3 separate regions of the Homo sapiens genome follow, and all the other regions are reported to be linked to region 3. The links are microRNA targets in miRTarBase. Many come from high-throughput screens and were not tested one by one. Region 3 holds a microRNA gene; each other region holds the end of a gene's coding sequence.

What was found. Region 3 holds the annotated microRNA hsa-miR-328-3p (CUGGCCCUCUCUGCCCUUCCGU, at 4,495-4,516, shown strand). A microRNA usually pairs through its seed, bases 2 to 8, with sites in the 3' UTR of a target mRNA and lowers its output. Matches are read on the target gene's strand: a 7mer-m8 pairs with bases 2 to 8, a 7mer-A1 pairs with bases 2 to 7 and ends in A, and an 8mer does both.
Region 1: miRTarBase lists HIF1AN as a target of hsa-miR-328-3p. Seed matches in the 3' UTR shown: 7mer-m8 at 1,713-1,719, 7mer-m8 at 2,697-2,703 and 7mer-m8 at 6,174-6,180.
Region 2: miRTarBase lists ARHGEF25 as a target of hsa-miR-328-3p. The part of its 3' UTR that is shown has no 7-base or 8-base seed match.

Annotation. Positions count from the first base shown.
Region 1 is chr10:100,546,911-100,554,062 of GRCh38, forward strand. HIF1AN (hypoxia inducible factor 1 subunit alpha inhibitor) reads left to right here. Exons shown (of 8, transcript NM_017902.3): 7 at 230-340; 8 at 1,183-7,152. The coding sequence ends at 1,227. Among named protein-coding and RNA genes, the nearest start is that of HIF1AN, 15 kb to the left of the region's middle.
Region 2 is chr12:57,615,764-57,622,951 of GRCh38, forward strand. It overlaps ARHGEF25 (Rho guanine nucleotide exchange factor 25), which reads left to right. Exons shown (of 15, transcript NM_182947.4): 13 at 74-254; 14 at 521-732; 15 at 1,021-1,482. The coding sequence ends at 1,131. It overlaps LOC101927583 (a long non-coding RNA gene), which reads right to left and starts at 6,140. Exons shown (of 4, transcript NR_120450.1): 1 at 4,878-6,140; 2 at 3,868-4,724; 3 at 2,977-3,074; 4 at 2,642-2,867. It also overlaps the pseudogene SLC26A10P. RefSeq lists enhancers at 3,995-4,561, 4,699-5,518.
Region 3 is chr16:67,199,682-67,206,842 of GRCh38, reverse strand. MIR328 (microRNA 328) reads left to right here and starts at 4,448; the gene lies at 4,448-4,522. ELMO3 (engulfment and cell motility 3) reads right to left here. Exons shown (of 20, transcript NM_024712.5): 3 at 7,087-7,159; 4 at 6,842-6,892; 5 at 6,482-6,651; 6 at 6,293-6,392; 7 at 6,035-6,186; 8 at 5,875-5,953; 9 at 5,408-5,458; 10 at 5,201-5,323; 11 at 4,970-5,101; 12 at 4,765-4,866; 13 at 4,559-4,667; 14 at 4,310-4,446; 15 at 4,053-4,216; 16 at 3,839-3,951; 4 more. The coding sequence ends at 2,966.

The sequences.
Region 1 (7,152 bases), not on the chromosome of region 3:
TGTATCTTTAGTAGAGATGGGGTTTCACCATGTTGGCCAGGCTGGTCTCAAACTCCTGACCTCAAGTGATCCACCCGCCTCGGCCTCCCAAAGTGCTGGGATTATAGGCCTGAGTCACCGTGCCCGGCAAGAATTGGGTTTCTTAGAAGGGAGGATGGTACTAAGAACAGTAGAGTGACACTGACGCCTGCTGCTAAAGGCATTTCCTGAGCTACTGCTTCCTTTGTAGGGGGCTCCCACCCCTAAGAGAATTGAATATCCTCTCAAAGCTCATCAGAAAGTGGCCATAATGAGAAACATTGAGAAGATGCTTGGAGAGGCCTTGGGGAACCCACAAGAGGTAGGTGACTGCCCCAAGGTGGCTCAGTGGGTGGGTTGACCAAGGAAAGTCAGGATCAGAGCGACATTCTTTACAGCTTCTGTGTTTCAGTGTCTGGTGTCCTCTCTCTCCATAGAGGTTATGGGTATGTTCAGAAAAATTCTTGTTTTCTGGTGATAGCTGGGCTTGACTGGCAGATCAATTATAATTAGTTCCATGCTAGTAGTAATGTTCCCCATGGGTATTATGTACCATCTGGGGACCCCCTGAGGGGATTCTTCTGGAACAGGAAGCGAGCACTAACACATCTCCTTGCACTTTCCCAGCTGTGCCAGGGCTGCTGTAGGTAATGTTGAGAGACCTGCTTCCCATGCAGGTGTGCCAGTGGCCCATTGGGTAAATGGGGGAGGTTTGTATTTGTAGGGTTCTTGCTTGCCTCTTGGAGGTAACCTCAGCATCCACAGACACCTGTGGTGTTGGGAGATAGCATCAGCCCCAGTTGCAGATGATCATTTTTTGAGGATATGGAGGCAGTTAACATTCTGGAGAAACATATAGACACTCTTGGGTGTTCGGGGATTATTAGCTTCTCTGACCATGTCTGTCCGTTTGGGGCAGATTACGGTAAGAGACGGTGTTGTGCGAGAGAAGAATAATAGTACAAGATGGACCCCTGAGGGAAAGACTATGTCCCAGAATACTGGGTTGACCTTCAGGAAGATAGGTGATTAGAGGATTCACAAGATTGTATGAAAACATTGTCTCTGTCCTTGGCTGGACATCTGATGTCTCCAGACACACCCTGTCCAATTCCAGGGCCAGGGAACAGCCAGTTCTGATTGGCTCCTCATGTTTCTTTACAGGTGGGGCCCTTGTTGAACACAATGATCAAGGGCCGATACAACTAGCCTGCCAGGGGTCAAGGCCTCCTGCCAGGTGACTGCTATCCCGTCCACACCGCTTCATTGATGAGGACAGGAGACTCCAAGCGCTAGTATTGCACGCTGCACTTAATGGACTGGACTCTTGCCATGGCCCAGGAGTCAGGTGTTTGGAGCGAGGCAGGGCAGTTGGCACTCCACTCCTATTTGGAGGGACTTCATACCCTTGCCTCTTGTGCCCCAGCACCTTCTCTCTCTGCCCCCCGCCTAAAGTCCTGCATTCAGTGTGTGGAGTCCCAGCTTTTGGTTGTCATCATGTCTGTGTGTATGTTAGTCTGTCAACTTCGGAATGTGTGCGTGTGTGTGCATGCACACGCATGTATGTATCTGTTCCCTGTTCCTTCTGGGTCAGGCTGTCACTTCCGGCTCTCAGCCCTATCTCCTGCAACCTCAGTGCCTCAGCCTGAGAGAGAGATGAGATGCTCTTGGACTCCCCACTGCATCTGGGCTGCAGGGCCAGAGCTAGTCTGACCATTAGGTCAGTCTGCCTCCTGACAGTTTTTGCGTAGTCAAGCTCTAGGCGGTATGGGAATGGCTACCGGGACTCTAATGGGGTGAAAGAGAGGGGAGGCTTGCCTTTGAGAGCCTATATAGCCTTCCTGTGAGAGAGGATTAGATAGGGTTCCAACTGGGCCTACAAGCTCAAGCCATACATAAAAGGACCTTGGGACATAAGAACCAATGATTGTGCATAAGTTCTAAATTAGAGACACATATAGTTTCTCTCTTTCAGCACCAGCTCTTGCCCCTATGCTGGGTACCAAGGGAGTTCTCCTAGCTGTGGCTTCTCTAGGTTCTAGGGGTGCAAGCCTCTGTGTGTTTGTTTGTGTGTGTCTGTGTGTGCGTATCCACACTAGGGGTGCAAGCCTCTGGGTGTGTGTGTGTGTGTGCGTGCGTGTGTGTGTGTGTGTCCGTGTGTGTGTGTGTGTGTGTCCACACTGGCCAGCCTCCCTACTTACCAAGGTTCTCCACTGCTTACCTTTTCCAGTGGGACAGTACAGTGTGAGCCCCCGGGAAGTACTGCCTGACCTATCCTAAGCTTTTACACTTGGATTTTAGCCATCATATGTTGGCCAGGTCTCACTGCAGCCTGCCCGAGGCTAACTGGCTAGAGCCTCCAGGCCCTATGATGCTCCCTGCCCAGGCCATATCCTTTATTCCTGCTGAGCTTCCTGGCTGAATAGATGAAATGGGGTCAAGCCCAGGCAGCTCATTCACTACCTGTGATCCACCTCAGGGCACGGGCAAACACATAGGCTTGCGTCTTAAAGCCAGCTCCTCTGCCAGACCCCGTTGTAATGTGCCACAACACCCTCAATAGTCAGGGCAACTGGTGGAGCATGGAAGTCGAATTTCCTTTTCTGTTAGGAGCTACTCCTGGGAACCCCTCTCAGGGCTGCAGCTTACAGGTGGGCAGCTGTGATTGCACAACTTGAAGGGCCATCATTCACATCTATTCAGTGGGAGTGGGGTCCCTGGGATTGGGCAGTGTGGTGGCCCTGTGTCTCCTCACCTCTGCTCCTGTCTTCATCACCTTCTCTCTGGAAGGGAAGAGGAGTTGGAAGGTCTCTGGTTTTCTTTTCTTTTTTTTTTTTTTTGCCAAAGGTTTACTTCCAGCATCTGAGCTCTGGCTCTCACCCCTGAAGCTCAGTTATAGTGCACTGATGAACTGAGAGGATGCGTGTGGATGTGTGTGCATGCCTGAGTGCGTTTTTTGGGGAGGGGTGTTTATTTTTAGTACCCCATTCTGGGGTTCTCTGATGCAGTGTGGATGTGAAGATATGGTACCTTCTCAAGTGTAGCTCTTTCAAATATAGTCAATGCTGGGAAATGTGATTGCAGTGATCTCTATCTCTCCACTTCTTTTGGGAAAGAGGAGCACAGGAGCGGAGGAAAAACTTGGCCACAGTCACACTTGGAAAGATAGTAGATTATTTTCGTTCTCCTCAGCAGGTCTGCTGTATTCCTCGCTCAGCGCTCAAAGATGTGGGTGATGTGTCAAGGAGGCATGCACTCAGCTGGTCCTTGCTGAGTTATTTGCTGACACAGGTCTCACTAAGGTGGCTGAGGGGTGGGAGGGAGAAGGCTAATCTTGGAACCTTCACAGGATTGGCCTTGATCCTTGGGTAACACAAGAGTGATTCCTGATTTTTAGACACCTAATATGTGCCTAGTGCTTTTCTCTTTGTTCCTCACTATCCTGCAAGGTAGGTATTCTCACTTACAGATGAATAAATGGGCTCAGAGAGATTAGGTGATTAGTGACAATCAGTTGTAACTTAGCACTGTTAGGCTGCAAACCCCTTGCTCCTTCCTTTCCACCAAACTATGTTGATTTTCCTTCCTTACCTCCCTCCTTGTACCACAGGTTCTGTCCTCAAGATATCACCCCACTGGGCAGTATCTGAAGGCAGACCCAGCCCAAGATGGTGCAGAATATACAGCTCAGGGTGAAAGTTCTTCTGGGCTCCTGCTAACAAAGTCTTGGAAAAACTGCCTGGGAAGCCATATTATGAATTAGTGCTAGAAGAAGCTGTGGGGGGAACTGAGTTCTGTGTCTAATTGCATTACTTATGTGTCCTTGAATAGGACCCATAACTCCTCCCGGCATGCTTTTGCATCTATAGAACTGAAGCTGTAGTTCTAGATGGCACTAAGGGTCTTGGTTCATATTCAGCTGCTGCTTCCCCCCAAGGAAAAGATGAGGTTTTTCCCCTTCGATTACCTTTTGAGGGATGTTTAGGCTCAAATTCTGCTTGCCACAGAGGAAACATTTCTGCTGTAGTTGTTTACCTCCATCCTAGCTGGCAGTGTGGGACACACACATACAGCAAGTGAAGGTGGGGGTTTGGGCCTGTATAGAGGTCAGCTACGCTGCAGGCTCATCTATTCACACCAGCAGGTACAGAGAAAACTAGTGTTTTGTAAAGTCAAATATTTGTTGGGGGTTGGAGTTCTGGGGTTGGAGGAGGGGCTGTTCTGGGCATCAGTTGAGCAGATGCCCAGGATGCCTGGGGGAGACCAGCTTCCCCTACAAATCAGAGCTCTAAATTACAAGGTTTTTACCAACGTGAACAGTTGGGGGAAGTCGTCTGCTCTCATTTGCGTAATGGTTTCTGTCACTGGTGATTAGACACAGGATGAAGGAAAAGAAATTTGACAATTAGGAATGAGCGATCATTAATCTGAATCTGTTAGGAGACAGAGAGGGGAAGGATCCTTATCAGTGGGCCAGCCCAGTATGGGGAGACACTCCCTCCCTCTGCCCCCAGAGACTCCTGGGCTACATCCTCTTTCAGTATTGCCACAAGTGGGCAGAGCTTGTATTTCTTAACAAAGATTAGGGACCCAGTTGCCAGCCTGAGATGGATATAGGAACAGACATCTTTGGGCATGAGCCAACAAAGATAGAAATAGATGAGTGTCAGGTACAAGCTATAAGGCAAAGAATAACAGTGGAAAAGTTTTGACATGTGTTTGCCATTTGTGGAAAATGTTTTTGTAATAGTCAACACCCCTCATAGCCCACCTGTGACAAGTACTTGTTACATTCCAGCACTGTAGGGCGTGAGGAAAATCTGGTCCTTATCAAATCCCAGGAGCTTCTGCTTAGTTGGGGAAGAAATTACATGAAGCAACCAGAGGTTATAAGGCCACACTTGTATATCGTGCACCCTGTGTGGACAAGATTAGGGACTGTTGAGAGAGGAGGAAACCAGTAGAGAGCAAAGCTCTACCCAGGCTCCTTGTAAGCCTCTGGGCTCCCCCGAGAGGGCCTCGCTACTCTACGCTTCCTAGCAACGTTGATGTCCCCACAACCCCACATCAGTGCAGCTGTGGCTGTGTGGAGGGGCTCTGAGGCCTCTGAGGCCAGATGTGTAAACAGTGCTGAGGTTCAGTAATAGGATGAGTCTTCAGGTGTGGAGCAGCCCACCTTGGCTCTTCCCATGTCTCTGTGTTACTTCTCATATTCTGCTGTCCTTTCAAACTTCAAGGACAGTATTAATTTATACTAGTATTTCTTCCTCAGTTTTGTGACTTGAATGCAGTGAGTGCCTTAGAGGATCCAAGGATGAAGGAATGCGGGTTGGTGGTTCTCTCTTTCAGAATGGGAACTTCCCAAAAATGGGGCTGCGTCTCGCCTCTCAGTAGGTTCCCTACCTCTGGGTCTTCCACCCTTCAAAATCTGGTACAGAATTTAGCAGGGGCTGCAGGGAATGACCCTCAGGGACCAGTTTCACCCAGATGGGGTAGATGATGAGGTATACCTAGAAGTAGCTCAGGGCTCCAGAGTCTGGCCTTTCAGCTGGTGTCTTACTCCCCTTTGAGACCTTCAGCTGCTTGTCTTCCACTGCCTGCATACTTCTCTGATGTCTTCTCAAACTGTTGGCTCTAAAGGGATGTTCCAGCCTCCCTCTCCAGAGCTGCCTGCAGTTTCCCTTATTCAGCTGTCTCCTGCCTAGTCTCTCCAGCGGCCTCCTTACCAAGACCCTTTTTCCTAAACAGTTGTCCTTCCCTCAGAAACTCCATGGCTGCAAGTGTGAATAGACTTGTCTTTAGGATCCCTCTCTCTGGTCATCCCTGATCATCTTAGGGCCGTCTCCCTTTTCTGATTTTTGACAGCTCTGTTTATTTTGCCCATGGCTAGTCCTCTTGTTTTGTGTCTGCTGTGTGTTCTTGCCCTTCCATTGTCAGTTCTGTACATCCTGGTTCAGCTTGTCTCACTGTGGTAGCCCCTTCTGCTTGTCTTCAGCCATCTTGGTTTAATCCTCATAGGTCATGGATGAATGGAGCCTTGCTGAGCACTTTGAGGGCATTTCTGTTGGGCACAACCTCAGAAACGGGAAGTCTTGAGGCCTGGGGGCGTGTGGTCAGTGAGGCCTCCAGAGGTGGGTTAGGGGTGGGCACCTACAAGGGCCAGTTGAGGGGAGAGGTGCAGGGATTGCTGAGGAGACTTTGTGAGAATGATGTCAGGCCCGGGAAGCTGGTGTGGAAGAACTGAGCTGTCAGAAGGAGATACCAATATCCCCTTTGCAGGGTGGTGATGGGCATCAAACATGACGTGGAACATGTCCCCTTCATGGAGGGTTTCCATCTAAATGCATCTGTGTGCCTTAGGGATCAGTAGTTCAGGGGTGGTGGACTTTTTTGAGTGTCTCCTAATTTCTCTGAGGTGTCTTTGGCTCTGTGTCACCAAATGTGCCTGACCTCTGCATCCCAGTGGTTGCTGAAAGGGAAACAGTATATTGCGTAGTCAGATGTCAGGAGTAGAGATCTTAATGAGAAAGGCCCTGGCAGCTGGAGAGATGAGAGGACCTAGTGGTCAGCTTATACCCAGACTATCTCTCCACTCCTCCAAGAGTTTGAGTCCCATAGCTGATGAAAGAATTTACATATGGGCTCCCCCCTGCTTTCCCACTGAAAATCTATTCTCATATTTTGGGAAGGAGCATATGTCCTTTAACTTTCAATGGTAAACAATCTAGGATAGTGTTTAAAGGCATGGATTTTGGAGTCACATATAGTTGGTTTGAATTTCTAGCTTCACTACTTACCAGCTGGGTTTGACCTTGGTTGATTTACTTAACCTCTCTGAGCCTCAGTTTCCTCAACTATAATAACATGGGTGGAGGGAGGCATGTTGAAAATATCTACCTCAGGGTTGTTGGAATAACTGAAACAATGTTTGTAAAGCTTTAGCACAGTGCCTGGCAAGCACTTAATAAATGGCTGTGGTGGTGGTGGTTATATTTATTATGTGATTTATTCAGAAACTTGGTTTCAGTGATCTCTAAACAGATTTCCAGTGGTTCTTTCTCTCTCAAGAAAAGCATAGGGAAAAACGAGAAACACCTTAGATAAACCATATTGAGTTGAGGGTAGACAGAAGAG
Region 2 (7,188 bases), not on the chromosome of region 3:
TCTGAGAGGATGTCTCAGAGGAGCCAGGGAGGGCCTGAGGAATCTGGGGGCTGTCTCCTATCTGCCAATTCAGGTGAGCTGCCTGGGACTGGAGGGGAACCTCCAAGGTGACCCTTGCCGCTTTGCACTGACCTCCAGAGGGCCAGAGGGTGGGATCCAGCGCTATGTCCTGCAGGCTGCAGACCCTGCTATCAGTCAGGCCTGGATCAAGCATGTGGCTCAGATCTTGGAGAGCCAACGGGACTTCCTCAACGGTGAAGCTCTCATCCTTTCTTCCCGATGTGCTCTCTCAGCCCCTTAACCTCCTGAATCCCTCACTGCCCAGTCTCCAGTACCTACCCTCTGACCATGGCCCATCCCCTTTTCCACTGCTAGCTCAAAATTTGATAGAATCCCCTAAAGCCCTAAGCAATTGACATTGGCTGACAGGGAGGGAGGGCAAAGTGGGAGAATGATACAGGCCCTAGGGAGCAGACCTGTCTCTGCGGTAACCCTCCTTCTGTTCCTCTCTTTGCTCCAGCATTGCAGTCACCCATTGAGTACCAGAGACGGGAGAGCCAGACCAACAGCCTGGGGCGGCCAAGAGGGCCTGGAGTGGGGAGCCCTGGAAGAATTCAGCTTGGAGATCAGGCCCAGGGCAGCACACACACACCCATCAATGGCTCTCTCCCCTCTCTGCTGCTGTCACCCAAAGGGGAGGTGGCCAGAGCCCTCTTGCCACTGGATAAACAGGTATGACGAATAGAGCTCCCTCATTGTAGGGATAAAAAGGGGAGAGCCTCTCTTGTTCTGGGACCCCAAGTTCCCTCCCCATATCATTCCTTCCTTTTATCTGGTCCTTCCTACTTCCCATCCCTTACGCTTCTCCCCTCTATTTTAACTCTGGAGAAGCTGATAGTCTCAGACAGTCTAAGATATCTAGCAAGAGGAGGTGGCTTGGCTAGGGACTTAAACTGAAAAGAGAGAAGTGAGGGTAGATTTCTGGCCTTTTTGATCCTCTGACTTGAATCTTTTCTTCAGGCCCTTGGTGACATCCCCCAGGCTCCCCATGACTCTCCTCCAGTCTCTCCAACTCCAAAAACCCCTCCCTGCCAAGCCAGACTTGCCAAGCTGGATGAAGATGAGCTGTAACTGGTGAAAACCATGGGGGTGGTGCTGACTCAGCCGCCTATTCCCCAAGGAGCTTCAGGGCAGTCCTTCTGGCACTGCTCCAGAATTCCTCCTTCTTGGTGTGTCTGGAGGGTGGGCAAGGCTGGGAGGGATATCAACTTGGAGGAGAACACCTAGACCCAAGGACTTTTTTCTGCCCAAGGAACACAGTTTCCTTCAGCTCCCATCCCTATGCATGCATCATGGTCCCCCCAAAAGGAGGATATGTGGGTGGGTGGGAGGGCTGGGGCAGGGGCCAGATAGAAATTATTGGTTTTGTTTTTTAATTTTGTTTTTCCTGTTTTCTGAGAATAAAGGTTTTGTTATATCACCGAGGCTGCTGTCTTGGCAGAGGGAAGGGGAGGCTGTAGTGGGGGTAGGTGGGGTGAAGTGATATGGAAGAGATCGGTTGGCCCCAGCCATTGGAGGAGGGGGTCTGGTGAAAGGAGAAGGGGACAGGGTGTAAGATAAAAGATGTTGCTATCTTTGTCCCTCAACTGCAGTTGCAGCAGTTGAGGGACAAAGACTGAGGCATGGAACCACTGGAAAGCCCTTAGATTCTTCTTCTTCCCTTTTTTTTTTTGTAGAGTTAGGGTCTCACTATGTAGCCCAGGGTCTTGAACTCCTGGGCTCAAGTGATCCACCAGTCTTGCCCTCCCAAAGTGCTGGGATTGCAGCCATGAGCCGTTGCATCTGGCCAGCCCTAGATTCTTGATGTATCCTCTTTACCCAGCCCTTCTTTTTCCCTACCCACCCTCTGGTCTAGACCCCACCAGAAAGCCCAATGCAGTGTGACTTCTCACCATTCCCCCAACACCCAGATACGAAAGCACAAAATGCCAATGTACCTTTCCTTCTGAGGCTACCATGTTCAGCTGAGGGAGGATGGGAAGGTGGAGAGGATCCTGGGGGCTGAGACCTTTTCCTGGCTCTGGGTCTCCTTATCTTTGCTCTCTGCGAGGTCATAAGCCATGTTCATAGTGAGCAGAAGGGGATTCTTCTTCAAGCCATGGACCCAAGAGCGGACAGCCCAAGGGGATCTTCACCCCTCCCAACTTCTGGGAGAGCCGCTGGAACAGAGCGAGCCAAACATTCACACAGCCATGTCCAGATGCCCTGTCCTGGGTCCTTAATGCATCTCCGAGTCCACTGTATCCATTCGTCCCTTGGGCTCAGTCACGTGCACTTGGGCTTCCTCAACAGACAATAGACTGCTGGGGTGGGAGGGTGAGGAGGAGACCTGGAGCCTCCCTGTGGGCCCGAGGTCCCTTTAGCCGATAATAGGGAGGGATTCCTAAGGGGGGTACAGGATGTAGCGCCCAGATAAGACTTCTGCGGAACAATAGGAGGAACTGAAGAAGGGAGACCCACCCTCACTGCACCCCACCCCCCGGGCTTTGGGGTCGTGGACTGGGGGACCAGAGGATCATGGGGAGGGGTGCCGAAGATTCTTGTGAATGGGGGTGGAGGATCATGGCAAACAGCAGGATTCTGGAGTTAGAACCTTTATATTTCTTTAGGAACCATAGGGACACATGAGCGGGGTGGCTGACCCCTTTGAACTTAGTTTGACCACATATGTGCTTTTGAATGCCTACTTTGTGAACAGCATTTGTTTTTTGTTTGTTTGTTTTTTGTTCTTTTTGAGATGGAGTCTTGCTCTGTCGCCCAGGCTTGAATGCAGTGGCTCCATCTCGGCTTACTGCAACCTCCACCTCCTGGGTTCAAGCGATTATCCTGCTTCAGCCTCCTGAGTAGCTGGAATTACAGGCACCTGCCACCATAACCAGCTAATTTTTGTATATTTTAGTAAAGACAGGGTTTCACCATGTTGGTCAGGCTGGTCTCAAACTCCTGACCTCAGGTGATCCACCTGCCTCGGCCTCAAAGTGCTGGGATTACAGGCGTAAGCCATTTCACCTGGCCTGTGAAAAGCATTTGAATGTGATAAATGGTGCTTCAGTTTTTTTGGTTCCTAAGAAAAAAATATCCTGTGGGTTCAGTATTTCCCCTGAGGCCCTGAACTAGGCCCAGCCACTCCTCACAGAGGTGTGGGTGCTGGTTCTGTCATTATCCCTCTCCAATACATGTGGCTGCATTCCATGTCAGTAGGACATGAAACTGCTTTTTGGAACCAGCTGTGCCCCATGAAGATGTGGGTCTGGGTGAGGTTCAGGATGGGCGCTGAACTTTTTTGCTCTGGCTGGGAGAATGTAGTGGCTCAGGGAAGGACCAGTGACCCAAGAGGAACCAGCCTCTCTCTCCGCCCAAGGTGCCGATGGGGAAAGGAACCGGGAGTTAAGTGAAAAGTCTAAGGAAGGGTAAATAGCGGGTGTTGAGTGTCGGGGTGCGCTTGCCTTTCGGATTCTCTCTCTCTAATATCTACACATTTCCACAGCCACCCCAGAGCCAGCGATCAGATCCGGCCAAGGATGTCTGCAGAAACGCCTAACATAGAGACTCTCCCTCTCCAAGCCGCGGCTCTCGCCAGACCCGAGAAGGTCCTCAAGCGAGGGTGACCTCAGGGCCGGATTGGACCCTGCTTCGTGGGAGGCGGGACTCAGGGCTTAGCGGGCGGAGGAGTATTTAAGACCGGGCGGAGTTGGAGGTGGCCAAGGGCAGAATGAGCGGGATTCAGGGCACCAGGACCTACCCAGGCGCGGGGGACACCTCTGACCTTAAGTACCCCTTGGCGACCAGGCTCAGGGAAGCTCTCACCGAGGCTCGGTTCCATCAGCTCTTCAGGGGCGAAGAGCAGGAACCGGAGCTACCTGAAGAGCGCGGCTTTCCCCGGCTCTTCGGGCTGTGGAGGCTGCGGGCTCGCGCTTGTTCCGGGACAGGGGCGTGGCGCCTGCTGCTGGCTCGGCTGCCCGCGCTGCACTGGCTGCCCCATTACCGCTGGCGGGCCTGGCTGCTCGGAGATGCGGTGGCCGGAGTGACCGTGGGCATCGTGCACGTGCCCCAGGGTGAGAGGCCCTAACAGCAGCCTGTCGGGAGCACAAGCTCTAGAGGGCTTCCGGGAGGAGGCTTAGGGAGCTGGGAATCCGGGAGCAGATGGTGGGTTCCTACCGTCGAGGGTGGGAGAGAGGGATCTGAGGCCAAGTTTGAGGTAAGGACTGTGGAGCTCCATCAGATCCCCATCCCCACCTCCCCTCATCTGCGCAATCCTGCGAGAAGCCTTAGACAGGTTCTGGCTCAGAGAACCGGAGAGAGGCACAACGCCTGGCCCCCAGGACTTGGCCACAGCGTCCCTGACCTTGTCTGCTCCATGACCTCTCACTGAGGCCCATTAACCCCTCAGTTCCCTGATGAGGCTTGATTTAGCATCCTTGATGTCAGCTCCTAAGAGTCTGGGAAGTGCATTTAAGTCCTGGAGGTTGGACAAGGCCCCCTCCCCACAGCACACCTTTCCATCCACTTCTATCCCAGGCATGGCTTTTGCTCTCCTGGCCTCCGTGCCCCCGGTGTTTGGACTCTACACTTCTTTCTTCCCCGTCCTCATCTACAGCTTGCTAGGTACTGGGAGACACCTGTCCACAGGTGAGTGACCAGGGACTTCCAATGACTCTTCTTCCCTATGGGATGAAAATGGACAGGGGCTGTTATTTCCCTTCTTCCTAATTTCCCTCTTCACCTCTCCTACCTTCACCTCCCTCCTTGCCCAACCCTGCCAGGAAACTGACCTAGGCAATGCTTGCTAGAGTGGGTGCAAAGAGGTGGGAGTTTACCTGAACTTTTTTCCCCTATGAAATTTGGTTAAAATGAACATCTCAGGGACTTGGAAGGGGAAGAATAGGTGCATGGTCCCCCAAAGGGGCACGCAGTAGGCAGAGAATCTGCAGGAGGGAGCAGTTTTTGCCGGCTAGCGCAGCTCTTCGCGCCCCACAGTCTTGACGGGGCAGCAGCCTTCTTGGAGAGCCGAGTCTGGCAGCAGGATCTCGGACCCAAGGCATGGACCCTGAGCTGCTGCCCTGCCCAGGGCTGCACAGCTGGTGATGTCTGCATTTGTCCCCCGGCGGCAGGAACTTTCGCCATACTCAGCCTCATGACAGGCTCGGCCGTCGAGCGGCTGGTGCCGGAACCCCTCGTGGGGAATCTGAGCGGAATCGAGAAGGAGCAGCTGGACGCTCAACGGGTTGGGGTAGCCGCGGCCGTGGCCTTCGGGAGCGGGGCGTTGATGGTGAGGGAGGACCCGGGGAGGAACCCGGGGGGATCCCTGCTGAGGGGCCAGGGAAATTGGGCCGGGGAAGAGGGAGGGACCAGCTTTCGGCTTGGGTTCGGGAGGGCGGAGGTGCGCGGGGTTGGTTTGCTCCTCCTCTAGATGGTGACAGCGCGTCTTCTCCCCCACAGCTGGGGATGTTCGTGCTGCAGCTCGGCGTCTTGTCCACCTTTTTGTCCGAGCCTGTGGTCAAGGCGCTGACCAGCGGGGCCGCGCTGCACGTGCTCTTGTCCCAGCTGCCGAGCCTCTTGGGGTTGTCCCTCCCGCGCCAGATCGGCTGCTTCTCTCTCTTCAAGGTGGGGGTGGAAGAAGAAAGGAGAAGGGGCTTCTAGAGGTCCCGTGAATAGGGAAACTCGAAAAGGGAGGAAGGACGGAGGGTGGAGGGGTAGTATGTGACAAGGGAGCAGGAAAGGAGGTTGGAGCCACGTGGCTGAACGAGGGCGCTGAGGAGGTGTAAGCCCTGGTGGCACTGGGTAGAGAGGGCCTCGCTCTGGGGGTCCCGCGCCGGGGCGCATGAGCCCTGGCACGGGGCCCTCTGCTCATCGCCCCTGCCCTCAGACGCTGGCCTCCTTGCTGACTGCGCTGCCTCGGAGCAGTCCGGCCGAACTGACCATCTCCGCGCTCAGCCTGGCGCTGCTCGTGCCGGTCAAGGAATTGAACGTGAGATTCCGAGACCGGCTACCCACGCCGATCCCGGGGGAAGTCGTCTTGGTGAGGATGGCCGTGCGCGCCGGCCCCCTGCCCGCGCAGACCCTGCGGTCCTGTGGGAACTGGCCGCTGCCGCCCCCTGGTGGAGTGCAGAGAGGCCACGGAACAGAGGGCCGGCTCACACTTTCCTTGGCCTCCTGCAGAAGGACGCTTTGACCTTCCACAGCCCCCCTCGACACTGTCCCACGTCTCTCACGGAGCACCCCCTAGACCTCTTGGAGTTTCCTCTGCCATCCTACAGCGCTCCCTTGAGGTCTTGCTGGTCACAGCACCTTCTCTGACATCTGTCCTCACCAGGGTCCTTCCCTGTAATTCACAGTGCATCTCCCTCTCCACCCTCCACCGACATTTCTCTCTCTCCCCAACTAAATAAACGTTCCGCGTCTCCACAGATGCCAGTATATCACTAGATATCGTCCAGCTTCCCTCTTTGGAAGGCTCAGTGGCATCTCTTCATATCCACCATCCTTCACAGAAGCGTCCTCTTACTTCCACGGCTCCAGGCTCTGTGGCCTCAGGCATATGTCATCCCTCTTTCCCAGCTCTACACTACAAATCAGTTGTCAGGCCCTCATCCCAAACACATCCCCGCTCCCCCAGGTGCTGGGCTCCTGCAGCCAGCTAGGCCTGCATTATGGTCCTCTCTCATGGTCAGCCCCTTCTAGCTTCTGCCAGGGACCCCATCTCTTCCCATGCCTTCATTTTGCTCTCTTTTTCAGGTGCTTCTGGCCTCCGTGCTCTGCTTCACCTCTTCTGTGGACACAAGATACCAAGTCCAGATAGTGGGGCTGTTGCCTGGAGGGTAAGAGAATGAAAAGATGCCAGCTTTCTCTTCTCCCACCTCTCCCACCCAACACTCCCTCTTATCTCCACCCCCCATTTTCTCTGCCTTCCTTATCTCACTGAAGCACCTAACCCCTCCTCACCATGGATCCCTCCCTCTCCAGATTTCCCCAACCCCTCCTCCCCAACCTGGCTGAGCTGCCCAGGATTCTGGCTGACTCGCTGCCCATTGCACTGGTTAGTTTTGCGGTGTCTGCCTCCCTGGCCTCCATCCATGCAGACAAGTATAGCTACACTATTGACTCCAACCAGGTGGGACTCTGACTGTG
Region 3 (7,161 bases):
AGAGGCCAGCATCTCTGGGTGAGGGGGTCACTAGAGGTCACCTAATCCAGCCCCCTCAATGGTGCTGGTGACTTCTCCATGGCAGGTCTGGCCCTTGGTGTGTCCCCGCACCTCGTCTATATCCCTGTTCATTGGTTGTAGCAGCGAGCCAGGGCTCCCCCAGTACCTGCAGGGACTGTGCTTTATGTGGGGATTCAGAGGGGCCAAAGCTCTCCCAGCCCCAGGGCCAGCTGGGGAGGCAGAGAAGCCAGCTAGCAGGGACAGTCCAGTGTGCAGGGTGCGGGTGAAGAGAGAGACAAGCACCTGGGACCAGAGCCCAGGGAGCAACAAATTGGGCCTGGAGGGTCCAGGAAGGAATCAGGGCAGTGAAAATGGCCAGAAGAAAGGAAGGGGGTGATCCAGGTAGAAGGCACTGTGGGGACGCACACAGGCAGGCCAGAGCTGGCACTGAGGGGGTAGTCTAGGCAGGGAGGATGCCAGCTCAGACCAAGCATCGAGAACCCTGCAAGCCACAGGTGCTCAGGTGGAAGGGCTAAACCACGGTATGTCTGAGACTCACCTGGCTCAACTCAGGCTCAGCCATGGAAACTGTGGCCATTAACCCATGGACATGGATAGGGTGACATCAAATATATGGGATGTTTGTGTGTGTGTATGATCAGATTTATGTCGGAGAAAGCAGTTGGGGTAGCTGGTATTGAGAGGATTGGAAGTGCAAGACAGGAGGCCAGAAGTCAGGAGGCTTTTGCTATGATGGTGGCATGCACAAGGGACTGGAGACATTAAGAAGGAATAATTGACAGTTACAGGGAGGCCGACAGCATCAGGGGTCCCTGCCCCCCATTTCCACCTATAACTCAATGGCCGACTGCTCCATTTGTGGTGGGAAGTCCTTAGGCATGGGCATAGTGGGCCCTGGATGCCCAAAGATCTGCAGCTTAGCTGGGGGAGGGGGAGTAAGTGCCCTCCAGCACTGAGGGCTGAGCACTGAGGGATGAAACTGAGTTTCATCAGTTCTCAAGGTCAGCCAGGTTGATGGTTAACAGTTAAAAACAGTATTGGGGCCAGGCACGGTGGCTCACGCCTGTAATCGCAGCATTTTGGGAGGCCGAGGTGGGCAGATCACCTGAGGTTGGGAGTTCGAGACCAGCCTGACTAACATGGAGAAACCCCTTCTCTACAAAAAATACAAAATTAGCCGGGCGTGGTGGCGCATGCCTGTAATCCCAGCTACTCAGGAGGCTAAGGCAGGAGAATCACTTGAACCCGGGAGGCAGAGGGTATGGTGAGCCAAGATGGTGCCATTGCACTCCAGCCTGAGCAACAAGAGCAAAACTTCATCTCAAAAAAACAAACAAAAAACAAAACAAACAAAAAAGTATTGGAGACAGGTGCGGTGGCTCATGCCTGTAATCCCAGCACTTTGGGAGGCCGAGGTGGGTGGATCACTTGAGGTCAGGAGTTAGAGACCAGCCTGACTAACATGGTGAAACCCTGTCTCTACTAAATACAAAAAATTTAGCCAGGCATGGTGGCGCATGCCTGTAATCCCAGCTACTTGGGAGGCTAAGGCAGGAGAATTGCTTGAACCTGGGAGGCAGAGGTTGCAGTGAGCCAAGATCACACCATTGCACTCCAGCCTGGGCAATAAGAGTGAAACTCCATCTCAAAAAAAAAAAAGAAGAAAAAGAAAAAGAAAAAAAAGATATTGGAGGTAGCACTGGTGAGAGAAGAGGTGAATGGCAGGGGGAAGTCTGAGGGGCAGTGGCTTCAGCCTATCCTGTGAGCTCCACAGACTTATAGGCTCTTCTTTCCTCACGGGCTTGGGGTCTGTGATCACAGCCTCTGCCCCTGTGACCAAACCTCCAGCTGGGCCCAATACTCCTCGATGCTTCTGCCCCCAGGGGCTCTGGCCTGTCTATGGCCCCCACCCTACCCATGGTTCTGAGTTAGATTTTTAATTTGTTTTTTGAGATGGAGTCTCATTCTGTCGCTCAGGCTGGAGTGCAGTGGTGCAATCTCAGCTCGGTGCAACCTCCGCCTCCCGGGTTCAAGCGATTCTCCTGCCTCAGCCTCCCGAATAGCTGGGATTACAGGTGTGCTCGACCACACCCAGCTAATTGTTATATTTTTAGTAGAGACGGGGTTTCACCATATTGCCCAGGCTGGTCTTGAACTCCTGACCTCAGGTGATCGGACTGCCTCAGCCTCCCACAGTGCTGGGATTACAGGCGTGAGCCAAGCCCGGCCCTGAGTTAGGTTTTAATCAGAAACCGGGTCTTCCTGCACAGAAGTGGCTCTTGTTGGAATCAGCCCACATCCTCCTACCAGCCTGGGGATCCTGACCCTGCCCTTCTGCCTCTCTCCCTTCATGCCTCTCACCAGAGAACTCCAAGTCCTACAAAGGACACCAGGCAGGGCCATGCAAGCTTGAGGACTGAGGTCAGATTGTCAGGAGCCTTCTGGAGATGGCTCCCAGACTACGCCCCTGTTAACGCTGTCCAGGAAGGCATCCATTTGGGGCAGTGCCTCCTACCCTGCCAGTTCTCCTGCAGCAGGCCGGCAGCTCAGCCTCTCCCTTGGCAGGTGCCCCCAGACCACAGGCCAACCCTCCCTGCAGGCCCAGCATGGAGGGAGGCTGAGGACTCACCTTGGAGAAAGGCTGCAGTCCCAGCCTCTCCCCACCCCCTTCAGAACACCAGCCCCTCAACCGTAGCTGTCAAAGTTTGTGGCCTGGCCTGATGCCCCATCTTATCCACCAGCTAAGTTTGAAGGCAGAAGGGGAAGACTGTCACTGTCACAGGCTCAGCCCGCAAGGTACAGAGCTGGCTCAACATATCCCAAGAGCCAAGCAGACTTTATTTCTGCAGCAATCTCTGCTGGTCAGGGTGCCTGCACTCCTCTACCCACTGCCCTTCATGGCTGCTGCAGTGGCCGCAGCTGTGGCCCATGGCCAGCCACACTGTCAAGGTTCAGCGATGCTGCAGTCATAGCAGAAGTTGAAGTTGGTGGGGGGTGGGGGCACAGGGGGTGGCCGCTCGGGGATGGGCACGTTCTCCAGCTCCAGCAGACGCAGCTTGGTCTCCATGGTCAGCAGCTGCTCCAGGTCCAGCCGTGTCTGCTCGCTGCCCATGGGACTGCCCAGCAAGGCACTGAGCCCATCTGTCCACAGGTAGAACTGGGGGTGGCACAGAGCCGTGAGGGTCTGCCCATCTGCCTCCCCTGCCCACCTGCCGACCTCAGCCTGGCGGACACTCACCTCCCGCTTGGAGGGGGCAATGAAGTTGAGGTACGCTTCCTCCTCCCCACGGTCATAGCTGATTGAGAAGGCCAACTCATAGAGGTCCTGGGGAAGCAAGGGAGCGGGGACACTGAGCAGGGGACAGGGTAGGCGGGGGCGGGTGGGAAGGAGCCCCTGGCCCGCTGTACTCACCTTGTTCTGCTTCCCGGAGCCCTTCTCCCGGACATGGGGGCAGTCCTTGCCTGTCAGGAGTGCCCTCATGTCGGCCACAGGGACTGCAGGAAGAAGGCTGGGCTGAGCACTGCAGCCCTGGCAGCCCCGGGGCCCAGGGCGGTCTGGGGAGAGCAGGTATCTGGCCCCCGCCCCTGCCCGCCTTACGTTGCTCGGGCAGACTCTCCAGGGTAGGCGGGCTGGCGCCCTCCTCCATGTCTCCGTACTGCAGCAGCTTGTGGTTGGGGGACAGGCAGCAGAACCACAGCTTATCTGCGTGGAGAAAGGGAAGAGGGCCAGAGTGCTGAGAGGTCCTGACACCAAGCCAGCCGCCCTCTGCCTGCCCTCTGCCTGCCCTCTGCCCCCTGCCCATGCCCATTCAGAGACCCTGGCGCCGCCGGCTGCTGATCTTGCGGAAGAGCGTCCCCTCACAGAGGCGGAGCAAGCGCTGCTGGCGGATCAGGCCCATGAGCTCTGGCTTCAGCTTCTCCCGCAGCTCCCTGATAGAGGGGTGTCACTGAGCACATCTGACCTGGGGAGTAGCCCAGGGGGCACCAAGGAAGGTAGGGCTAGGACTGAGGATCCATCCCCCCAGACTCACAGTATAGGGGGAGCCAGTGTGCCCTCCTGGTGCAGCCGTTCAGTCTGCCGCAGCCGCAGCACCTCCCCATAAGTGAGCGCATTCACCTTGGTTCGGAAGAGCTCCAGGGAAGTGGGCTTCAGGGCCAGAGTGCGGGCCAGCTGCTCCCGCACCACCTGCATGACCTGGGGCCGCCCAAGCTCAGCTCAGGGCCTAAGCTCTGTACCCAGATCAGCCCCCTGCCCTGGCCCAGGCCTCCCAGCTCCCACCCCACCCACCTTGTCGAAGTCCTCCTGTGTAGCCCGCATCTCCTTCCAGGTCTTATTCAACAGCTGGATGCCCACACAGAAGAGCTCGTGGAAGCTCTGGTCTTGGCCGAAGAACATGGGTGAGAAGTCCTGGGCTGTCTCAGAGCCTGGAGTGGGGGGGCAGGAGGGGCTCAGGGAGAAAGTGCATACAGCCCCTGGCCCTCTCTGCCCTTCCGTCCCCTGCTCTTGGCCATGCTGTGCCCAGTCCAGGCCACTCACAGGGCTCCCCAACACGGAGCAGCTCACACAGCAGCACCGTCAGCTGGATGCTGCCCCGGGCAAAGGGGCACTCGTGCTTGTCCTCGCGGCTGCTGTTCTCCAACACAAACTGGGGGCGCAGAGAATGGGGCAAGGAGTCACAGCTAAGCCCATGGGGACCCTGCCTGGGGGATGCTGCCACCCCCCCACCCTACCCTGTCACCGACCCGGCTGTACGCGCTGGGCGCGTTTCTGGAGAAGTACAACATGTTGTCCAGGGCCAGCAGACCGGGGGGCACGCGCTCCAGGTCCTGTGCTGGGTTGCTGTTCTGGGGGAAGTGGGCACAGGCAGTTCAAGAAGGGCCACGGCCGCCTGGAACAACAGCCCTGGGCTGAGGCAGGGGTGGGGAGTTGGGTAGGGGTGATACTCACAGAAAAGCCCAGTTTGCGGAACTCTCGGGCACAGAGGGAACGGCGACGGTCAGCACTTAGCCCGGCACCCGAGGACTCCCCCTCCACCTCGAAGGCAGCCTGGCGTAGGACCTGCAGCTGCTCCCGCTGCTCCTGGGGTCAGTGTTGGGTGGCGGGGGAGGGGATCAAGATTATAGATTCAAGGCCAAGCTCTAAGCCACCCCCTGCCTTGTCCTCACCAAAGACACACACCTGGCTGTAGGGGTCCAGGGGCGTCCGCATGCGCGGCTCCAGCAGCCCCAGCATGAGAGCCTGCAGTACGTACAGGTGATGAGCCATCTCGTCGCCCATTGGTGCTGCACTGTGGATGATGTTCTGCAGGACAGCCAGTCCCTGGTGTAAGCGAGGGCTCACGGGGAGGGAGGGGCAGAGAGGTCCCCCTGGCCCACCACTTCCTACCTTATAGATGAACTGGCGAAGGTTCCTCTGCCAAAGATAGTCAAGCATGTGCTGAGGGGGTAGAAAGAAAGGGGGCTTAGGCTGGGCGCGGTGGCTCACGCCTGTAATCCCAGCACTTTGGGAGGCCAAGGCGGGCGGATCACGAGGTCAGGAGATGGAGGCCAACCTGGCTAACACAGTGAAACCCCGTCTCTACTTAAAAAAAAAAAAAAAAAAAAAAAAATCAGCTGGGCGTGGTGGCGGGAGCCTGTAGTCCCAGCTACTCGGGAGGCTGAGGCAGGAGAATGGTGTGAACCCGGGAGGCAGAGCTTGCAGTGAGCCAAGATCGCACCACTGCACTCCAGCCTGGGCGACAGAGCAAGACTCCATCTCAAAAAAAAAAAAAAGGGGGGCTTAGAGGATTTTGCTTCAGGGTGGGGCAGCGCCCACCGGGTGCTGCCCCCATCTAGCCACCGATCGACACTCACCTTGCGTTCCACAGGGCTGGCCCCCTGCAGCAAGGCTGTCAGCAGGGCCATGGCCTTGGTTTGCAGCTGCTGGTTCATCCTATGGCAAGAAGAGGGCTCAGTGGAACATTCAGGCTCCAGCCCTGCTCCCTGCATCTGGACCCCAGCCCCAGAGGCTTACACCTGTAGGTGCACCAGCAGCCTATCCAGGGGCACCTCGCTCTTGACCAGCTGGCCCAGGGCTGGGCTGCTCAAGGTCACACTCTCCAGCAGCCCAAGGGCCAGGGGAGGCACGGAGGCATCCATGAGGTTCATGTTCACGTAGCACACCACCTGTAAGGGGCGGGGGTGTCACCACCTCACCCCCATGGAAGACCGGGTCTACCACTGCCCCACTGCTCCACTGCCCCCACCCGCTGCCCTAGGAAAGCCCACCCACCTTCCTCACAAAGGGGATGCTCAGAGTCTCCCAGGACACCACGCCGTGCTCCATGAGCTCTGAGAAGGCCCTCAGGCTGAGGGCCAGCACCTCTCCTAGGCTGGAGGGGGGACATCTGGGGCTGAGCAGGACCACCCCAGGACCAGAAAGACCCACCATCTCCCCCAGCCCACACATCCCTGTGCTCACTCGTCCCCATCTTCAATGATGGTGCCTAGTATCTGGAGCCCATTACGGCTGATGACCTCCCTGGCAAAGATCATGTCCGAGGCCAGCGGAACAAGGCGCCTCAGGGCTTCCCGGCGCCCTTCAGGACTGTTACTCTGCAGCCCACCCAAGAGCTGCTCAGCCTCAAGGTCCTGGCAGGAACGGAGCAGGAGCAGAGGTGAAGAGGCTGGGCATGGTAAGGGTGGGACCTGGAAGTGTGCGGCCCCGGGCGTCAACTAGGTGGCGCAAGGCAGGGCTGGGGCGGGGGCCTCCGGGGCGGGGGGCCTCTGGACCTGGAGCAAAGGGGCAGGGATGGGGAAGGCGGGACGGGAGGGGCATTACTGGGGCCGTGCTGAGGCACAGGATGCTGCCATTCTTGATCTCCGCGCGGTTCTGGAGAAGACAGCAGAAAAGGCAGCGAGGTCAGGGAGGGCTCCGAGGACTGATCAACTGGGGTGTCGGTGAGGGCGGCTGGGGGTGAATAACAGATCGCGCTCCGGTAGTGGGATGAAGAGCCAGAGTTATCGGGGCCAGGTGGGTTAGAGGGGTCGGAAGGCCGAGCTTGGGGCTGGGGAGAGGGGACTCACATTCTCGGTGATGTATCTCCGGTGCCCATCCGCAAACTGCAGGGCGTAACGCTCAGAGTGCGTCAGGCTCCACCT